Homo sapiens: one gene and its partners. The protein of the gene in region 1 interacts with the protein of each later gene in a pairwise test. Each region holds a gene or a part of one and is shown on either strand. Other genes may lie near its edges.

Region 1 (6,040 bases):
GCTGGAGAACTATTCCTGGATAAGAATGGGCCACACCAGGGCAGGAACCTGCTGTTCCACCTCTGAATGCTGGGCCACGTCTGGCCTGGCTTCGTGCAGCAGCAGATGAGGATGAAGGATTCCAAGGTGATCATCTCACACTAGAGGCTTTATACAGGCGGGCTCTTCTGTCCAGGATGTCTTCTCTCCCTCACTTCCTACTCTTTATTAATCTAGCCATCTCTTCTTCATTTTTAAAGTTTCAAGGTATATTGTCTCCTCTAGAAGAGTTTCCTTGGACATCCCAGCAGAACCGTCACTCCCTCTTCTGTGTATCCACAGGCCCTGTACCTTCTTCTACCATGGTATGTTCAATGTTGTGTGTTTTTGTGCTTGGCTAACTCCCCAAATGCCCTGCAAAAACTGTATCTGGTTCATCTTTATTATATTCCTGATAACTAGCTCAGTACCCTGGCACATAATAGAAGCCCAACAAAAGTTTACCAACCTCTCCCCAGCTTTGGATCTTAGAATAAACACACCACTGAGTCAATGTCACAAAGATTGTTCACAACACCATTATCCAGGCTATATATTGAGGTTCTCGTTAATAAGGGTTTGTGGTCCAAAGGACAGTTTATTTAAAACAAACGTGATGAGGTATAGGAAGAAGAAAAGAAGGAGAACAACAATTCTAACATAAAAACACAGGAAGCATCTCAAACTTAAAAAAGAAAAAAGGAGTGGGGGCAATGGAGGAAGCTATGTCTCATACAAACTGCTGACCTCAATTGATTACTTACATCCAAACCTTACAAAATAGCATTTCAAGTCAGCACTTAAGCCAGTGTTATTAGATTTTCTTACAAAAAGTTAAAGCTACAAACTTCACATTTTTAAACTGTACATAGCAAAAACATTTAAGCTTTTTTTTTTCCAAGTTGGTCCGAGTGCAAGCTGGTAAAAGAGATTTTTTTTCCAAACACAAACAAGAACATGTATTCCAAAGACAATGAATATAATACTGATAAAAACACAAACATAGTGCTTAAGAAAAGATGGGGTGAGGTGGAGATGTAGATTGGGCAGGAACAATTTTCTAGTAAATAAGGAGCTGCAATCTTTAGAGGCAACATGGTATGCTAGAAAGGACACTGGAATAAGAATCAGAAGACCTGGATCTGAATCATGGCTCTGCCATATTCTAGCCACATGACCTTGAGCAATAGACTTTACTTCTCTGAGCCTCAATTTTCACATCTGTAAAATGAGGATAATAATACCTATATCTCCCAGCACTATTAAGTTTCTATAGATATAGGGCTATTCAGATTATCTACTTCTTCTTTTTTTTTGAGACGGGGTCTCATTCTGTCACCCAGGCTAGAGTGCAGTGGTGAGACCATGGCTCACTGCATCCTTGACCTCCCTGGGCTCAGGTGATCCTCCCACTTCAGCCTCCTGACAAGCTGGGATTACAGGTGTGCACCACCATGCCCGACTAATTTTTTTTTTTTTTGATGTTTTGTAGAGATGGGATTTTGCCATGTTGCTCAGGCTGGTATCTATTTCTTCTTGAATGAATTTTGGTACTTTTTATTTTTCAAGGAATTTGTTTATGATGTTGAAGTTGTTAAATTTATTAGCATAAAATTATTCATAATATTCTATTGGCTTTTTAATACCCATAGGATGTATCATGATGTCGCTTCTCTCCTTCCTGATATTTAAAAGACTTACTGAGTTTTAAATGGTATAAATTTCTGGCATCTGGCAGGTGCTAAATAAATGTTTCCTGGATCGAAATCTACAGTCTCAAGGAGTCAAGGCTACAATTCTTAAGTTGCTTCAGATGACTGGTTCTATCTATTTATCAATACATCCATCGATCCACTCATCCACTCATCCATGCATCCTCCTACCCTTCCTCTTCCCCGTCAAACATTCATCCATCCAATTGGTGGCTTGGGGAAAGGGACAAAAAGGGGAAAAAAAAAAAAAAAGGAAAGTGCTTCAAAATTACTGATGGAGCAATTAAAACAGTCTTAAAGAATTCTGAGATTTTTGGCCAGGCAAGGTGGCTCACGCCTGTAATCCCAGCACTTTGGGAGGCCGAGGCGGGTGGATCACAAGGTCAGGAGTTCAAGACCCACCTGGCTAATATGGTGAAACCCTGTCTCTACTAAAAATACAAAAATTAGCCGGGCGTGGTGGTGCAGCACCTGTAGTGGCAGCTACCTGGGAGGCTGAGGCAGGAGAATTGCTTGAACCTGGGAGGCGGAGGTTGCAGTGAGCCGAGATGGCGCCACTGCACTCCAGCCTGGGCAACAGAGTGAGACTCTGTCTCAAAAAAAAAAAAAAACACAAACAAAAAAAGAATTCTGAGATTTTTTTTTTTAAAGACAGAATCAGGTCATTGTTTCTTGAAGGCAGAGAACAAGCGAGGACCTCAAATTTCTCTGGAAGCTCGAGTTCCAAATGCTCAAGCAATAACAGAAGCCCAAGGCTCATTGAAAGCAAGCTGACATATCTTAAATTTAGTATTCAACAACAACAACAACAACTAGGACTTGTTCCTTTGCCTTTCTGTCACTAGAAAACAAATATACCTTGTCAGGAAATTTCTCTGATCCAAAACAAATTGACTTCTGGCCAAAAGGCTTCATCAAGCTAGACTGGTAAGCAATAGACTTTGTTGGATCAGCAAGCTGGGTGCACACATTCCTGAAACAAAACAAACTCCAGATCAAAGTTCATGACCCAAGAATAGTTATGGGGGAAAACTGAACTTTCTTTTATTTGGATCTAGCTTAGGAAGGGAGAAAATGGGCTTTCTCCTCCTCTCTGGCCAAGTGCAAAGTTCTTTGTTTAAAAAAGAAAGAGAGGCCAGGAGCGGTGGCTCATGCCTGTAATCCCAGCAGTGTGGGAGGCTGAGGCGGGTGGATCACCTGAGGTCAGGAGTTCAAGACCAGCCTGACTGACATGGTGAAACCCCGTCTCTACTACAAATACAAAAAAATAATCTGGGCATGGTGGCATATGCTGTAATCCCAGCAGAAGAATCGCTTGAACCCGGGAGGCGGAGGTTGCAGTGAGCCAAGATCGTGCCATTGTACTCCAGCCTGGGCGACAAGAGCGAAAATCCATCTCAAAGAATAAAAAGAAAAAAGAAAGAGAGAGAGAGACAGAACTATTAATTCGCACAGCAAATGGTGCAGGGGTGTGCATCCTGGATGCTTTGGTTTTTAAAACTTACTTGGCTATCAGACTTAACTACTAATTCAGCTGTCTTTCCAACCTAAAAATGCCAGTTCGAGTTATTTAGTCTATGCAAGAAAAGGTGGTCACTTCATTTTAAACAGGCTTGTGACTTTCCTTTTTTGTGTAAATATTGACCCCCTATAGTGATGCTATGAATCCTGATTCTATCATTTACTAGCTGCATGACCTTGGGAAGGAATCTTTCTCTCTGAACTTATTTCTTCAACTACAAAATGGAGATAAAGTAGTTAAGTCACAGGGTTATTGTGAAGTTTAGAGCCTACCCAGCTCAGTGCCTGATATATAATAGGTGCTCAACAAATGGTAGCTGTCATTTATTATTCCAGCAAGATCCTCAAATTGTCCTCTGTTTTCCGTATCCGCCACATAGCTATTTCAGTTGCCAAGCCCTGAAGACTAACAACTGCCTCTTGCATTTTTTAAAAACTTGCTTTAATTGCAAATAACAGAATCTGGCCACAGAAGAGGCACATTCCCTGCCTTTCCATTGATTCCCAGGTTTCAGGAGCAAAAGCAATTATGGAGTCAAATTACAGTATCCTGAGGTGCAACCCAGTCATGGCTCCCCATCTGAGGGAAAGAGGTAAAGTTGCAGGAAGATGGCTCTATGCTGTCTTTTGCAAAGCCCTCTGATCTGCTTCAGGCCCGAAACCTGCCTCCATGGGTGCTTGTCTGCTATATCTGGTAGATGTTGTGGAGCTCAAGGACTCGCTGAAACTGAATGATCTGGCTCGTCCAGGGAATCTCTTTACAGCCAGGTCATCTACTGAAGAGCCAAGGCAAGAGCAAGTTTCTGTTAGCAAGGTTCCCTGGAACAATTAACCAAGACTGACACAGGTCTCTTCCCCCAAAGAAGGGGCTGCATGGTTCGGTGGCCTGGGAGTGAGGACCCTGAATTCTAGTCTCAGCTCTTAACGCTAACTTGCTTTGTGATTTTGGCCATTCCCCTCTCTACACCTCAGTTTTGCGATCATCCGTACAAGAGGATCAGATCAGATGATCTCTATAGTCCCTTCCAGCTCTGACATTCTGTGTGTTCAGATTGAGCCTCCTGGAAAACAAATCTTAGTCTAATATTCATTTATCCTTTCCAGGCTGCTTAGCAGTAAAAGAGAAAAGAAAACAGTCACATATTTGAACGTGGGTCACAAAAGCAATCCCCTCTACCCCTGTGTGTAAGGAATGTGGAGCAACATGCCACGTGTATGATTTTTACATGAACAATGAGAGCTTCAAAAACGCTTTTCCTTTGTGGACTGAACACAGTCCCGTGTTTGCTGAGAGTCCCTGGTAGAGATCATGTCTCCTCTTAAGGCACTGGGCAGTATCTGTGCTGTGACTTTAGGCAGTTGAGAGAGTGGAGATGGATGAAAGGCATTGAAAGAGCAAAGGCCAATTTGCAAAGAGGGTGCCAGGCTTCTCCTGGGACTCAAAGAGTAAACATAAACTCTCAAAGCTTTCCCTTGGACATCACCAATAGCTCCAGAAGCCAGTGATGACCACACAAGGCTGAAACCACGGTACAAGAACTGTCCCAAACCTAATTTTTAAATGCAGCCCTGCAAAGGGGGAGGTTGGCTCCTGGGATTCAGTGACCCCCTAACAGCCTCCCGGTGTCCTCTGCCCTCATGTTCCACAGTACCATAATCTTACAGAAAAGAGGCAAACCGTTTAAAACTGTACCTGTACAGAGATGCCACCACACTGCGTGGGGAATCTATTTATAATTTATATATATATATGCATATTTATATTTTTTTAAAAGTCTTCCAGAAAGAACAATTGAAAGCTATTGGGAGAAGAAAAACAGACAATGTAAAACTTTCCCAGCTATCACTCAACTAGGAGTCTCTGTTCCTGGGGTTTAAAACTCTGAGTTAAAAGCGCCAATATAAATCCTTTGAGATAATATACCTGACCAATGTACATACACACATCAAGATGGCACGCTGACTGTCAAGAGAGCCCTTCCCACTGGCGCACATTCCTGAGTTCACAAAGGTGCTGTGGAGAGACGACAGAGCAGAAGTGCTGGCTAACAAACATGAGGCAAGCCATCCAGAATTCACCCAAAGCCTGGGTGGAGCTGGGGCCCTCACAGCCTGGCCTTGCTCAGAAGTTTTGTTGCCGTCTCTTCTTAGCCTCTATGGCATCCAGGATGGGCTGCCGCTTGGACTGGTACTTCTGCCGGATCTCTTCAATCTCCTGCTCCATCATGGGGTCCAGGGCCAAGAGCCTCTTCTGAAGGTCCTCCACTGTCCAACTCTTAAGCTAGAAGAGAAGTGGAAGGTATAGTCACGACAAAGCTTAAGTCAGTGGCAGAACAGTGCAGAAGCCCAGCCTTCCCAGGCACCCAGAGGGAAGGGAGACAGGAGGAAGACACTGTGGTCAGATCACAGGTTGAGTGGTGGTGGTTGGAAAGTGACAATTCATTCCAAAGCATGGCATACCTTGAAGCTTGTCTGAGATAATTTATCCCTGGAAGAGATCTAAGTGCTAACCGCTTTGATTTAATGTGCCTTGACCAAGAACTTAGTGAATAATACTCTCACCTCCCCTATCTTTTAAGTTAATTAAATATAGATTCATTGTTAGGGCATTAAAATAACAGTAACTTGCTGTATGTGAAATAATGGTTGCCTCCCCGTTCTTGTTCTGTCTACGAGATAAGCGTCTATCTGGACAGCGCCTTTCCCACTTTCAGGATACGACACCATGGAGGATCGATGCTGATGAGGCGCAGATGCCATCCCCTAACCCTGCCTTCCCACACCCCCAA
Region 2 (7,611 bases), on another chromosome or scaffold:
AGTCTGCCGACAGCATCTTCTGGAATTACTGGTGTGGTGGAACTCAAAAATTTTCTGCTTCACCTGAGCTTCCCAGTAGAAATTCTTAGGCTGACGTCACAAAGATCACGACTCATTTTTCCTGTTTGTATATTTGCTGCAAAAGAATCGACACTCTCTCCTCTTAAGCTCCTTTACTAGGCTCTAGGTGATGATGAAGTTTTCCTTTAAGTTAACATCCTTATTACTTAAATAGGAGACACTTCATGTTCTACTCCTGAAAGCAGTGGTATTAGTTAAGTTTGGTTGTTGAGATTATGTTATGAAAGTGATGAAATCACTATAATTTATCATTTTAAACATACAAATTAATTTTTGCAACAGAATAACTCTCTAACTGTAATGTGAAAGGAAAATATTCAGAATTCCTTTCTCAGAGGTTTTGTTTTCAAATGGCCTATACTTGAATATTTTAAAAATCTAAGCTTTTATATGAAGCCCATGTAACTCTAGTAACCGTGAATTCCCCACCTACATTGCAATCAATGAATCTATATAAGCAAATGGACTGTCAGCATTGGGTTTCTATCTCAGTTAAAAGTAAAGGATCCTTCTTATTTTAGGAAATTAAAACAAGAATCAGGTATAGAACTTTTAATTACATGCTTAAAAGACTTGTTACATACATGTTACACTATTTTGAATATAACTGGAAAAGTTAATTTTTTCGTAATCATTGCTGGGTCTCTCTGTGTCACTCTTTTCTCTCTTTCTCTCTCTCTCTGATTGACCACAACATTTAATAGTTTATAATAAAATGTTATACACGTGAGAAATAGTAGAATAAATGTAAATTCAACACAATATTCTAATGTATAGATATAAAGTTGTTATCTATCTATCTATCTATCTAAACAGATTTTAACTAGAAAGACTTCCACCCAGTTACGGTTAAGTAGATTAATCTCAAATCAATTTCAAATATGGTTAAATAAATTTATCTCAATTGGGGCTACTATTCTTTATTTAGACATATGTCTATCAATAAATATAAAGGCAAATAACTTTGTTTAAGGATGTATAACAATATGGAAATTCAGCATAAAAGCATATTTCCTCTTTGAAAAATCTTTAATGAATATTGGAACCCTAACTTATTCTAATTCAATTTGATTCCTTTATAAGTTTTTAGCTAAACTGTACTAAACACAATCAGACCCCAGAGGGAAATAACATAGTAAACTTCAGTTAGGTTGGGTTTAGAATTCTATCCACAATTCTCCAGTCAATATCTAATTGTAAGCACACTGAAGAATTTCAACTCTGCAATTTGAAAAAAGAATCCATTAAAACACCAATGATATTAAGTTAGAGTATACTGCAAACTCTTTGACTGCTTTATTTAATAAAATAACAAGATAAAAATGAAGTCAATGGAAATTACTAGTCATAGACACTAAGTTGGTCCCCTCAAGAAAATTAGCAACATTAATAACTAACAACATTGACAAAAGTGCCCTTTAAGTGAAACTTCATAAAATAAAGCCACTTTCCTGTAATTTAAGCTTAAGAGGTAGAGACTGACAAAATACAAGTATTATTCCTTCATGTCTCTTGTCCATCAACACAAATTAAAAACAGCACTTCAATACAAACAATTCAATATGTGCTGAAATATAAAGACATGGATTATATGGTCTAAATTGATGAAAGTTATTCAAAAGCAGTCTCCTTTATAAAACCCAAATGGCATGAATTCCACAATATGAGATTGTGTGTAACTCTCTTACTCTAAAATTCTATTTTCTTTTTAGGAATAACAGATTAATGTAAATGTGAATTTTTCAAAAGAAAACTGATTGAGTAGCAAATATGTCTGAATTTGCCACCACATACTCTATCTGAAAAATGGAAAGAAGCCAGGTCATTTCGTTGCTACCCAGAGAGATGATCCTAGCACACCTGTCACCTGCTTGCCTGTCCTGGATCCAGTCTCCGGGAACCAGTTCAATTCCAGCATCCTAATACACACTGTCTGGTCTCCCTAGTTCAGCTTGCCCTCCCTGATAACGGCCCCTTTGGCAGAGCAGCTTATTCTTAATGCTAACAGTAGGTATCACTTACAGAACACTTGCTGACTGTTCAGTTCCCATCAAAGAAAGCCTTATGTGGCAGATCCTTTGATGATGCTTGTTTTACAGACAAACGTTTGGGGCTTAGGTTAAGAAACTTGAGAGGGGGCAAACTAATAAGTGGCAAAGCCGAGCTTTGAACCTACCACTCTTCTGCTTCAGAATTCATATCCTTAACTCATGCACTCCCATTTAATTATTTATGTTTATTATTTCATTGTTTGGTGAGCGCTTATATTGAAAATTCATTTTTTTTTTGGTGGGGGGCATGCTTTCTGTCACTTTGCAGAAACAAATAAAAGTTGAGCTGAACCCTCAATTAAGTTCTTTCCAGTGCGATGATTCAACACAATATTCTAACCATAAGGATACTCAGAGGAAGGAGTATGCCATCCAGAAGTCTAGTATCTTTGTAAGGCACGATTTTTGCCAGGCACAATTACAGGTGAAGGGCTCATTGAACTAAAGGGAGGAGGGGTCCTATGGTCACATTTACCTCCAAGCCCTTCTCTGCACCCTTTCCCTCCCTTCTTTCCCCTCTCTCCCTCCCACCCTACAAGCTTACCTTGGTTAGGAAAGCATATTCTGAGAAAATCAAAAGGAAAAGGCATGTGTGCGATTCAGGCTGCTATGACACACACACACTTAACTTTGTTGCCTATGGATTCTGCTTTCTAATAACTTGCCCTCAACATGACCCCAGGGAGTGGATTAGAAAGTTTTTTTCCCCATCCCCATTTTTTACCTGTTATTCACACTGTGAGCAGGAGGACCCTTTTCACCATCGTTGTTCGGCTGAACTTGCTTCGCGGTTTGTTCTCGGCTGGGTCAGGAACTCTGGTAGAGGGAAACCAGTGCCCTGTCTCTGCCGGGCTGGGACTCCGCGAGTCACTCACCTGTAGGGGAGGTCCGAGGCCCGCGCGGGCGCAGGGGCGGCGCCTGTCTCCTCCCAGAGCATGGCTCAGCTGGGCGCTTGCAGTGCCCCCGACGCGATCAGCGATCCTGGAGCCCCAGGAGCTGTTAATTATTTCTCCTTTTCGCCACAGCAGGGAAGTGTCAAGAAACCTGAGCCACTCCCTGTGCCTCAGTGCATGTTGGGAGTGTTTACTTTCTTAGGAACAGCTGATAGGTACACTCCTTTGCTCTCTGCCACACTTCTTGAGAAATGAATGGACATTCTAGTTAACGCTTTAACCACGGGATTTGACTGATGTTAATCTCTATTCTCTAGTCCACCCAGACTGTAGGTAATTGGCCTGTGAGAAATGACACCAACCAAGACTGAACGCCATTATTCACGTCTTTCTTTTTAAGATTTTTCTTTTCCAATTTGAGATTTGTTAACTTTCTTTTCCTTGTTATTTTGCTAACACATTTCCCTGCTAGCACTTTTTTTCACCCAGAGCAGCGTTTCGCGCTTCAGGGTGCACCAGGACCACCTATGTATTCTGCTAAACCCAGGTACCATCAACTGTGAGACTCTGATTTAGTAGGCCATGCATACACTTCGGGTATTTATATTTTTTATAAGCTCCACAGAAGAAACTGGTAGACATCAAAGTTTGAAAATGAACATAATGAAACAAAACAGAGGAGATAAATAATAATTTAGTCATTATCTACTGAATTGGATTTGGGGGCTTTGTTTTATCCAATATCTCCAATTTCAAAAGGACACCAAAAAGGCTTAGAAACTGTTAAATGACAGATGCTGTGGAAATATGAAGTACATTTACACACACACACACACACACACACACACAGATTTTTAAGGATCATTGTTATTTTACTGGTTTCCTATGTAAAGCAACTATTCATAATTTTTAAACATAATAGGTTATTTTACAAGTGTAAACCTGAGAGCCCTCAAAAGAAATTCAATCTGATTCCTGCAAAAAGTTCAGCAGGCAGAGTTAATTTCTAGTATCTTTCGTGTTCAAACGCCAGACAAACAGAATGACTCTAGATGTTCAGGTTGCATGTTTGTCATAGCACTTTAAGTAAGATCCTATATGTTCAAAAGGTGAGGCAGGCCAGGTGCAGTGACTCACGCCTGTAATCTCAGCACTTTGGGAGACCAAGGCTGGTGGATCACTTGAGCCCAGGAGTTCAAGACCAGCCTGGACAACATGGCAAAACCCTGTCTCTGCAAAAAAAAAAAAAAAAATTAGCCCGGCATTGTGGGGCATGCCTATAGTCCCAGCTACTCGGGAGGCTGAGGTGGGAGGATCACTTGAGCCTGGGAAGTCGAGGCTGCAGAGAGCCAAGATTGCACCACTGCACTCCAGCCTGATTCAAAAAAAAAAAAGAAAAAATATTAGGCAGTTTATCTATTTAATCTGTGGTGTGCGGAGACCAGGAACTATCAGATTTATCATTATTTGAGCAAATGGTTTTATTGGATCACAATCAAAGATTTTACAATCTTATGTAAGGACAGATGTGACTTAGTATTACTTGCAGATATTAATTCGATCATCATGTTGGCTCCATAACTCTCTGGTATGTGGCTGCTGGTATGGACTGACCTTTGAATGATGACTAGCAGGACCTAGAGTAGTTACAGCTCTCGGTTCCAGGATATCTTGCTCAAATCCATGCTCCACCTCCATTGTCTGTGCTTGAAGTGGGTCATTTGCTTATTGTCAGCATCAGGGCAACATTCTTTTGCATCTTTTACCTGCAAGCATTGGATTTGGGGGCTTTGTTTTTTGCCAATATCTCCAATTTCAAAAGGACTCCAAAAAGGCTTAGAAACTGTTAAATGGCAGATGCTGTGGAAACTTTTACTCTGATGACTGCTTTCCAACTGGTTTTCTAAAGAAAAGTAAAGTTAGAGGCTTAGTGACTTCGTTTTTTAGTGTTTTATCTGTTTGTAAATATGTAATTTTTATTTGATAATATAAAAAGTATATAATTGCACATATGCAATGTGGAAAATCTGAAAAACACAGAAATGTAGAGGACAAAAAGCACCTATAATTCCATCTCTCAAGTATAATCATCATAAACAATTTGTTGAATGTCTTTATTGACTTATTTTCCCTGTGGCTGTTTATCAAAATGCTATTACATTTGGTTTGTTGGTTTATAGCCTGCTTTCATCACATCAAACGTAGTATGAACAATTTACTATAAATCAGTCACTTTTTTTCCTGCAATGTAATTTTAACTAGCTGCTCTGTATTGCACCAAATGAAAATACCGTTACTTATTTAATTATTATGATAAAGTTATACTGTTATAAACAACACTGCAGTGAATGATTACATATGATTCCACACAAGCATGACTACACCTTTTAGATACATTTCAAAAATTGAAGTTACCAGATGTAAGGCAATGTGCATTTTGAAGAATTTCCCTGCTTAAAAAATCTTTGTCAGTTTTATACTCCCAGGGCAGCTAACATGGGTTATTATACTTCTTTTAAACATTTATTAATTTGAAACATAAAAAAATCCATATCTTATTTTAAATATATATATTATCGTACTTGTAAGTTTGGGCTCTTTAGACTTTGCACTTTTGCTTTATTGTTTATTGGACTCTTTGCTCATCTTTTTTCTTATTGATTTATAAATTCTCTTTATATATTAAACATATCAACTCTTCATCATATATGCTGTGACTATATTTTCAAGGTGACTTGTTTACCTTGCAGTCTTGTCTATGGTATTTTTGACATATAAAAGTTTAAAAATGTAAATGGTCGAATCTATTATTTTTCTTTATCAGTTACATCAGTTTTATAAAAGCTTTCCCATCCTTAAAGAATGTAAAAATGCACATATATTGCTTCTTCTAGTTTTTCTAAGATTTAGATATTATTTATTTATTAAATTGAACATTTTAGCCCATCTAGACTTTATTATGTTAATACACCATGAAATTTAGATCTAACTTAATTTTTCTAAGTTATTAGTTTGTTAACTGAGTCATGTTTATTAAATAACTATAGATTATAAAATTTATGAAGGCAAGGACCTTCATAAATTCATAATGTCTTATCCTCTATTTTAACCACTAAGCTTAGCACAGTGACTGGCAGGCCCATGGTTGCTCAGATCAAATGTTTAACTAGCACTCTTGATTTCTTTCTTTCCCTCTTTCCACGCCCAGTAAATGAGCAAGTCCTGATGTTGTATCTCCATGGCTACCACCTTACATCAGGCCAGCATCATCTCTTGCTTGGATACCACAAATGACCTCCGAACTGGGCTTTATGCCTCCCCTCTTATCCTACTACAGTCCATTCTCCACCTGTGGCTAGCGTAATCTTTTATAAGCAATATCCAGACAACAATACCACTTCTGATTTTCTTGGTTTAAAGGCTTTCTAGTGGTTGCACCGCACATCTGGAATAAAATCTAAATCTGAACTGCTTACCATGCCCTACAATGCCCCACATGACTGGCTCATCCCTGCTTCTTCGACCTTTTTGATTTTCTGCTTCCTTGGTACTAACTCTAAACTTGCTACCCTGGTTAATTTTTATTTCTGGAACAGACTAAACTTCTTCCTGTCTCACTGCGTTTGTATTTATTATTGATTCACTCAAGAAAGCTTTGCTCTGGTCATGGGTAGTTTCTTTTCATTACTATGTTTTTTTCCTCAAATATTACCTCCTTAGAAAAGCTTCCTATGACGACTGTATTCGAAGAAGACTTCTGATCTTTCTCTATTATAGCACCTTGTTTTATTGTATTTGTGGCAATTATCATTAGCTAATTATGTTTTATTGTTTGGGGTTACCTCTTTATTTTATGTCTCCTGTCATTAAAATATAAACGCTAAGAGATCAGGAACCTTGACTTGTAGGTTCACTCCTCTATGCTTAGTGTCTAGAACAATGTGTGGTCCCCTGAGGGTCAAGAAACACTGGGTCAAGAAAAAATAGTAACAATAAATAAGCGTTGAGTAAATAAATGTAGATCACACTCTTTCTTGATATGAAATGACACTTTTATCAAATACTGAGGGCATACATATTTTTTGCCTTACACTTCATTTCATATCTGAGGCTGTACTTAAAGAATATGTGCTAGGGAAGGAAAAAAGGAAGCAGAGGCAGTGTAGTTCCAAACAATGAGGGGACTCCCAGTAAAAACCTAGCTGGAAAATTGCCTTAAAGAGGAAGCCAGGCCTTCACAAGGAGGCAATGTGTTAATTACATTTCCGATGTGTAAAGCTTAAAATAAATATATTTTACAACTGGAAATTTTTGCCATAAAGATTTTAATAAATTACAGCAACCGTAACAGATTAAGATTTTTGGAAAATCCCAACATTTAACTTGAACTTGAAGAATAAACCGTCACTTCCTGTTTCAATTGAGGAACATATACTGCTTTTCTGTGAAAACAGACAAGAAATTTAATTAAAAAAAAAAAACTTTGTTGAGAAAAATAAGGGAGGAGAAATTTCCTTTAAAAATATACACAGAACTTTAATTAAAACAGTGCTGTAATTGATGTACAAATCATTTTAAAACTTTTA
Region 3 (7,030 bases), on another chromosome or scaffold:
GGAGGTAGAGAAGTGGGTGAGACTGGAAGGGTGGGAAGGAGAAGTCTGGCTACTTGTATCTTGGCCTGGGGATTTGTTTGGAAGATGAATTATCCTCTGGTAGTTGTGTACAGTTTACAGGTCAGTGATTAGTATGAGTCCGTGAATAGTGCCAGTTAATACTGATTAACTGCTGTACTTTTTGCCAATAAATATTGTAAAGCTATAAAGACAACAGAGTTAATACAAGTTGCTAAAGAGAAACTTGTGGTAAATGTCTTTAAATGTTGTTTAAAATAGAAATGGCCAATCTAGCAGGCATGCTGAGGAAATGATGTTTTTGCAGAAGGGAAATTTAGCAATGACAGTTTTGCAGAATATATTGGTAATGAAGTGTTACTTGTAGCTGCTGACAAATTAGTTTTCTTAAAAAATATATCCCCTAGGAAGACTGTAGTATGAAAGAATGAGAACCGTAATTGGTGGATGAGCCTGGAGAGTTTGAAGGTAAGAGAGAAAGAGAAGCAGCGAGGGAGAGAAGGAGAGAGAGAGAGAGAGAGAGTGAGTGTGTGTGTGTGTGTGTGTGTGTTTCAAGGTAACATGCAAGAACAATAAGGTTCTTCTTGTGTGGTTGTAATTTTTTTTTTTTTTTTTTTGAGACAGGGTCGCACTCTGTCACCCAGGCTAGAGCATAGTGGCATAATTATGGCTCACTACAGCCTCGACCTCTGGGCTGAGGTGATGCTCCCACCTCAGCCTCCTAACTAGCTGCGACTACAGGTGTGCACCACTGTGCCCAGCTAATTTTTGTATTTTTTGTAGAGATAGAGTTTCCTCATGTTGCCCAGCCTGGTCACAATCTCCAGGGCTTAAGCTCTGCCGTCCTTGGCCTCTCAAAGTCCTGGGATTGCAGGCTTCCACCACCGTGCCCGGCCCTTGTGTGGAATTTTTAAAAAATCCTGACTTATCTGTTTGTTTGTTTGTTTGTTTTTTTTTTTTGAGACAGAGTTTTGCTCTTGTTGCCCAGGCTGGAGTGCAATGGCGTGATCTCAGCTTACCACAACCTCTGCCTCTCACGTTCAAAGTGATTCTCCTGCCTCAGCCTCCCAAGTAGCTGGGTTTACAAGCGTGCGCCACCATGCCCAGCTAATTTCGTAATTTTAGTAGAGACAGGGTTTCTCCATTTTGGTCAGGGTGGTATTGAACTCCCAACCTCAGGTGATCCGCCCACCTCAGCCTCCCAAAGTGCTGGGATTACAGGCGTGAGCCACTGCGCCCGGCCTATCCGCACTTTTTTTTATGATTGCTCACATGTGACATGTCTTGTTTTTCTTCTAGGATGTTGAGAAAGAGAAGGAAACCCACAGTTACCTCAGCAAAGAGGAGATCAAAGAGAAAGTTCATAAATACAACTTAGCAGTCACAGACAAGTTGAAGATGACCTTGGTAAGCACTCAAAATACTATTTAGGTTGACACCTGTCAAAAGACAAATATAAATTGTTGGTACTACAATCTATAGTTCTAAATATCTGAATAGCATTTGTAGAAGTGTAGTAGTCAAGGTATACAGAACAGGAAAGTGGAATATTTCTGTGGCTTTCCATTTAAATCTGTATTGTGAAGTAGCTTTGTCTCAAAAATCAGTTGCTGGGTTAACCTTAAAAAAGTGAAACACTTATAATTTTATTTTAAAAGATTTTGTGACCCACCCCTCCCTCCTCAAAGGATTTTTAGCATCATTGCCTAACATACAGAAATGGTGACTCAGATTCTAAGAAGACCTCAGGTAAGGTTTTTTGTTTTGTTTTGTTTTGAAACAAGGTTTTGCTCTGTCACCTGGGCTGGAGAGCAGTGGCACGATCACCGCTCACTGCAGCCTCGACCTCCGGGCTCAAGTAATCCTCCCACCTCAGCCTCCCGAGTAGCTGGGACCACAGGTGCTTGCCACCATGCCCAGCTAATTTTTGTATTTTTTGTAGAGACGGGGTTTTGCCATATCACCCAGGCTCATCTCAAATTCCTTGGCTCAAGGGATCTGCCCAGCTTGGCCTCCCAAAGTGCTGGGATTACAGGTATCAGAAGCCCCTAAGTTTTTGTCTTGTACAAAATAAATATGGAAGTGTCAGGGAAAGGATTTTGAGCCCATGGATTGGAATATAGAGGTATATAATAGGATAGTTTTCTCTGCCGGTCGTTAGTGTAAGACAAGGTACTTAATACTCAGTTTCTTCCACGTCGCTGTCGCAGGCTTCCACAGCATTGTGCCACACTGAAGCATGCAGGGAGTCGGCGTACAGGAGGGAGAAGCCTCAGGGCCTGGGGATAGGGAAACGAGCTGACAGCGGAGCTAGAGTATTCATGTTCCTCTAAACTTAGCTGGCATCTAGGTCTCGCCTACCCATTGGGTGGCCCGCCTTCTTCATGGCACTTGTCAGCCCTTGGCGCCAGTTTCCAGGGCACTTGGATCCCCGTCTCTCAGTCTGTTTACTGTGAACTGACAGAGTTTGGTAAAGGACAAGGTGATTGGTTTAAAACAGGCCCTACCGAATCGGTGATTCTTGGGGAGGAGCTTTCAGATAGAAACCCTTGTGGTAAAGGACCCCTCCCTGGTAGAACTCCTCCAAAAAGAGGGGAGAGGAGCAGAGAATCCCAAGATAACTCTTCATCATTCCAGCAGCAAGATTTCTTTTTCAAACACATTTTTTCATCAAAGGAGAAATCCACTTGCTATGTTTTTTTTTTTTCCTTTCCTGATAGAGACTAAAACAGATACAAATTATCCATGTCATTTTAAAGATAAAAATTTTAGGCTGGGCACAGTGGCTCACACCTGTAATCTCAGCATTTTGGGAGGCTGAGGCGGGTGGATCACTTGAAGTCAAGAGTTCGACGGTGGCTCACGCCTGTAATCCAGCACTTTGGGAGGCCGAGGTGGGCAGATCACGAGGTCAGGAGATCGAGACCATCCTGGCTAACACAGTGAAACCCTGTCTCTACTAAAAATACAAAAATTAGCCAGGCGTGGTGGCGGGCGCCTGTAGTCCCAGCTACGCGGGAGGCTGAGGCAGAAGAATGGCGTGAACCCAGGAGGCAGAGCTTGCAGTGAGGCAAGATCGTGCCACTGCACTCCAGCCTAGGCGACAGAGCAAGACTCCATCTCAAAAAAAAGAGTTCAAGGCCAGCCTAGTCAACATGGCAAAACCCCATCTCTCCTAAAAATAGAAAAATTAGCCAGGCATGGTGGCGGGTGCCTGCAGTCCCAGCTACTCAGGAGGCTGAGGCAGGAGGATCACTTGAACTCAGGAAGTTGAGGCTGCAGTGAGCTGTGTTCGTGCCACTGCACTCCAGCCTGGGTGAGAGAGTGAGACCCTGTCTCAAAAAAGAACAAACTAGAGAATTAGGATTGAAAATTGATCTTGTGGGAAGGAAGAAAAATAACACACCATAAAGATAGTTTTAAATGTTCTACTTTAACTGTGGCATTTATATGTAACACTTGACAGTTTAATAAAACAGTACAATAAATCTTTTCTAAATATACTGTTTTTGTTTGTTTTTGAGATGCAGTCTCTGTCGCCCAGGCTGAAGTGTAATGGCGTAATCTCGTAATCTCGGCTCACTGCAACCTCCACCTCTGGGTTCAAGAGATTCTCCTGCCTCAGCCTCCCGAGTAGCTGGGATTATAGGCACCTGCCACCACACCCAGCTAATTTTTTTTTATTTTTATTTTTAGTAGAGACGGGATTTCACCCTGTTGGCCAGGCTGGTCTCGAACTCCTGACCTCCAGTGGTCTGCTCGCCTCGGCCTCCCAAAGTGCTGAGATTACAGACATGAGCCACTGCGCCTGGCCCCAAATATACTGAATACAAAAATAAAAATAAAAAGTGAAGACCAAACTGTTATTACTGTTTTTGGCAACTAAGAAATAGTAATTCTACCATCAGTGAAGGTAGTTGTTTTTAAGATCTGTACTGTGAAGTATAGTGGTTTGAATTTGTTTTTTTTTGTTTTGTTTTGTTTTTGTTTTTTGTTTTTTTTTTTGAGACAGAATCTTGCTCTGTCGCCCAGGCTGGAGTGCAATGGCGTGATCTTGGCTCATTGCAACCTCCACCTTCTGGTTTCAAGCGATTGAATTTTTTTTTAAAATGCTGCTTAAGAGACCCGAAATGCATTCTATGCTGTATGGCATATATGCTGCATTAAAAAGTTTAAGCAGAGTTAGTAATTCAGTGCATATGAATATAGCCACTAGGAATGAAAATAGCCTGTTTTCTTACTGTCCCCTTGTTGTTGACTTCAGTATTTCAGAGCCCTAATTGTGACCTTCCTTTTGTGTATAATAGTCACCAGTTGAGGATGTTGTTTCCTTTGAGCCTGTAGCCTAGACATATCCCCCAAGCTTTAATAAGTTTTGTGGTTTGGCTAGCATCTGCTCCGTTGGATTGTAACCTCGCAAATGGACCCTGACCTTTTGCCAGTAGCTTCAGAGGCATGAGTCTGGGGCCGGCAGTCAGCCACAGCATCAGGAGGCTTCTTCAGTGTCCACATCTGCCCTGCAGACCTTGCCTCTGGAAGCACTTTGCCTGGTGTGTTAACCGCCCTCTGAGGTCATTCCTTTGGGGGCAATCTTTAGTGAAGTTCTGCCACAAACCTCAAGAGAAGAGAACAAAGGAGTGTTTCACCTTCCCGTTTTGTTTTGATATGCTTCTTCCCTAAAGTGCCACCATCCACCCAGCTAAGTGTGTGCTTCTCTCCCTGCTTCAGAATTCAAATGGGATTTACACTGGCTTCATTAAAGTACAGATGGAACTCTGCAAACCTCCACAGACTTCTCCAAATTCTGGAAAACTCTCTCCCAGTAGCAATGGCTGTATGAATACACTTCATATCAGCAGCACAAACACTGTCGGGGAAGTGATCGAGGCCCTGCTCAAAAAGTTTCTCGTGACTGAGAGCCCTGCCAAGTTTGCACTTTATAAGCGTTGTCACAGGGAAGACCAAGGTACGCTGCCAGCTTAAAAGGAAAATGGTCTGTGCTTCTACTTGCATCTGCTGTTCTCATTAGCAGAGGGAAGACTGGTGGGTCTCATCCATGTCAGTTGTGTCAGAGCCTGGAGTCCGATGCTGGAAGCCATGGTGATCTTAGCATGCACTTAGTGCTTCCTGGCTGTCCATATTTTTGAGTTGGACAGTTGAGGGTCTGAGGAGCTTGGAAGCATCCATATGTGATTGGCAGTTACGAGTATTTTGTGGTGTTGGTGGGGGGATGGGGCGGGGGCTGTTTTTGGTGGTTGTTAGGAGTGGCTTTGATTTTAGTTTTCTTTAGGACACAAAAGAGTGCCTCTGTGTTTGAAGTTTTCAATAGCACATTCCACATTTGATGTGCATCAGTACGTGGAGTGGTTTGGTGGATGTGTGCTGAGATCTTGCGACTGGGGAGGCACATGTGCATCACAGCACATTTCAGCGTACTGATGGAAACGGCCCAGCCCTGGGCTCTCCTGTTGCCTTAGCTTGTCTCACTTGGTGTTACGCCGGGACATTTTGGTACTCTGTCCCCCAGAGGCTCATCAAATGAGTGAATAACATTTTGATCTAGGGTCTGACTAAAACTTCATATCCACATTCAGGGGATAGAAAGAGAACATTAAATATTAAATTACTGCGTGAAACAGAATGAGATATTCCAGGTCAGGCAGTGACCAGAAATTGATAACATTGGTGGACAGTAGTGATTCAGTGACTCACTACATGCGATTTGAAATCGGGGTGTGTGTGTGTGTGTGTGTGTGTGTACAATAAACTATTTAAGCTTTCTTTGGTTTTTCTCGGTAAAGCCTAATGTAGCTATAGAAGAAAATATATTAACCTTGACATGATAGTAATGTTCTTCAGTTACACAGGATGAAACCCAGCTCATTGCTGAGTATGCATACATCTTTTTAAAAACAAACCATGGGGCTAGACCCTGTGGAATACAAAGATGAACAGGCCAGGGTTCCTACCTTCAGAGGTCACAAGCTTAGTATTGTGGGGGCTTATATCTATAGGGAAATTGGCACCTGCGATGCAGTGCATCTGGAAGTGCCACAATAATGTAGAGAAGCTCGATGGCATTTTTATCTGCCAGTTTCTTTGCCTGCTCACCTGGACTTTAGCTGTACAATCTGAAAGTAATCGTGACTTGTTGAAATATTACCCCCATGGCTGGCAAATCCTTTAACATGATTGGCAATGTCACTGTATGTGTGTGTCTAGCATGAGACATATATAGCTGTGCTTGAAGCTACCGGAGCTTATATTCTGATTGCTTGGTTTGTAGCTGCTAATTCGCTAATTCTTTTTTTTTTTTTGAGACGGAGTCTCGTTCTGTCACCCAGGCTGGAGGTGCAGTGGCGCAATCTTGGCTCACTGCAAGCTCCACCTCCCGGGTTCACGCCATTCTCCTGCCTCAGCCTCCCGAGTAGCTGGGACTTACAGGCGCCCGCCACCACGTCTGGCTAATTTTTTTGTGTTTTTAGTAGAGACGGGATTTCACTGTGTTAGCTAGGATGGTCTCGATCTCCTGACCTTGTGATCCGCCCGCCTCAGCCTCCCAAAGTGCTGGGATTGCAGGTGTGAGCCACCGCGCCTGGCCTCGCTAATTCTTAATTAATCTGTAGAGAGATTTGCTTTTAGAACTCTTGTTTTTATGTTCTTTGGATGGTATATACATTTTTTTTTAAATTTGTTTTTTGTTTGTTTGTTTGAGACGGAGTCTTGCTCTGTTGCCCAGGCTGGTGTGCAGTGGCACAATCTCGGCTCACTGCAACCTCCGCCTCCTGGGTTCCAGTGATTCTCCTGCCTCAGCCTCCCAAGTAGCTACAATTACAAGTGCCCACCACCATGCCCAGCTAACTTTTGTATTTTTAGTAGAGACAGAGTTTCACCATGTTGGTGGCCAGGCTGGTCTCAAACTCCTGACCCCAGGCAATCTGCCTGTCTCGGCCTCCCAAAGTGCTGGGATTACAGGTATGAGCCACCACGCCTGGCCTTGGTTTTTGAGACA

The links. Proteins that work in one complex are often made in the same cells at the same time.
Region 2: the proteins of STK4 (region 1) and RASSF6 interact in binary tests that used the Homo sapiens proteins (3 or more experiments, as listed by UniProt).
Region 3: the proteins of STK4 (region 1) and RASSF3 interact in binary tests that used the Homo sapiens proteins (3 or more experiments, as listed by UniProt).

Annotation. Positions count from the first base shown.
Region 1 is NC_000020.11:45,074,510-45,080,549, reverse strand, and holds the end of STK4 (serine/threonine-protein kinase 4), read right to left. Parts: intron 5,533-6,040; coding exon 5,374-5,532; 3' UTR 529-5,373; downstream 1-528. UniProt on the Homo sapiens protein: Stress-activated, pro-apoptotic kinase which, following caspase-cleavage, enters the nucleus and induces chromatin condensation followed by internucleosomal DNA fragmentation.
Region 2 is NC_000004.12:73,617,432-73,625,042, forward strand, and holds the start of RASSF6 (ras association domain-containing protein 6), read right to left. Parts: upstream 3,006-7,611; 5' UTR 2,857-3,005; intron 1-2,856.
Region 3 is NC_000012.12:64,683,470-64,690,499, forward strand, and holds part of RASSF3 (ras association domain-containing protein 3), read left to right. Parts: intron 1-1,317; coding exon 1,318-1,425; intron 1,426-4,746; coding exon 4,747-4,984; intron 4,985-7,030.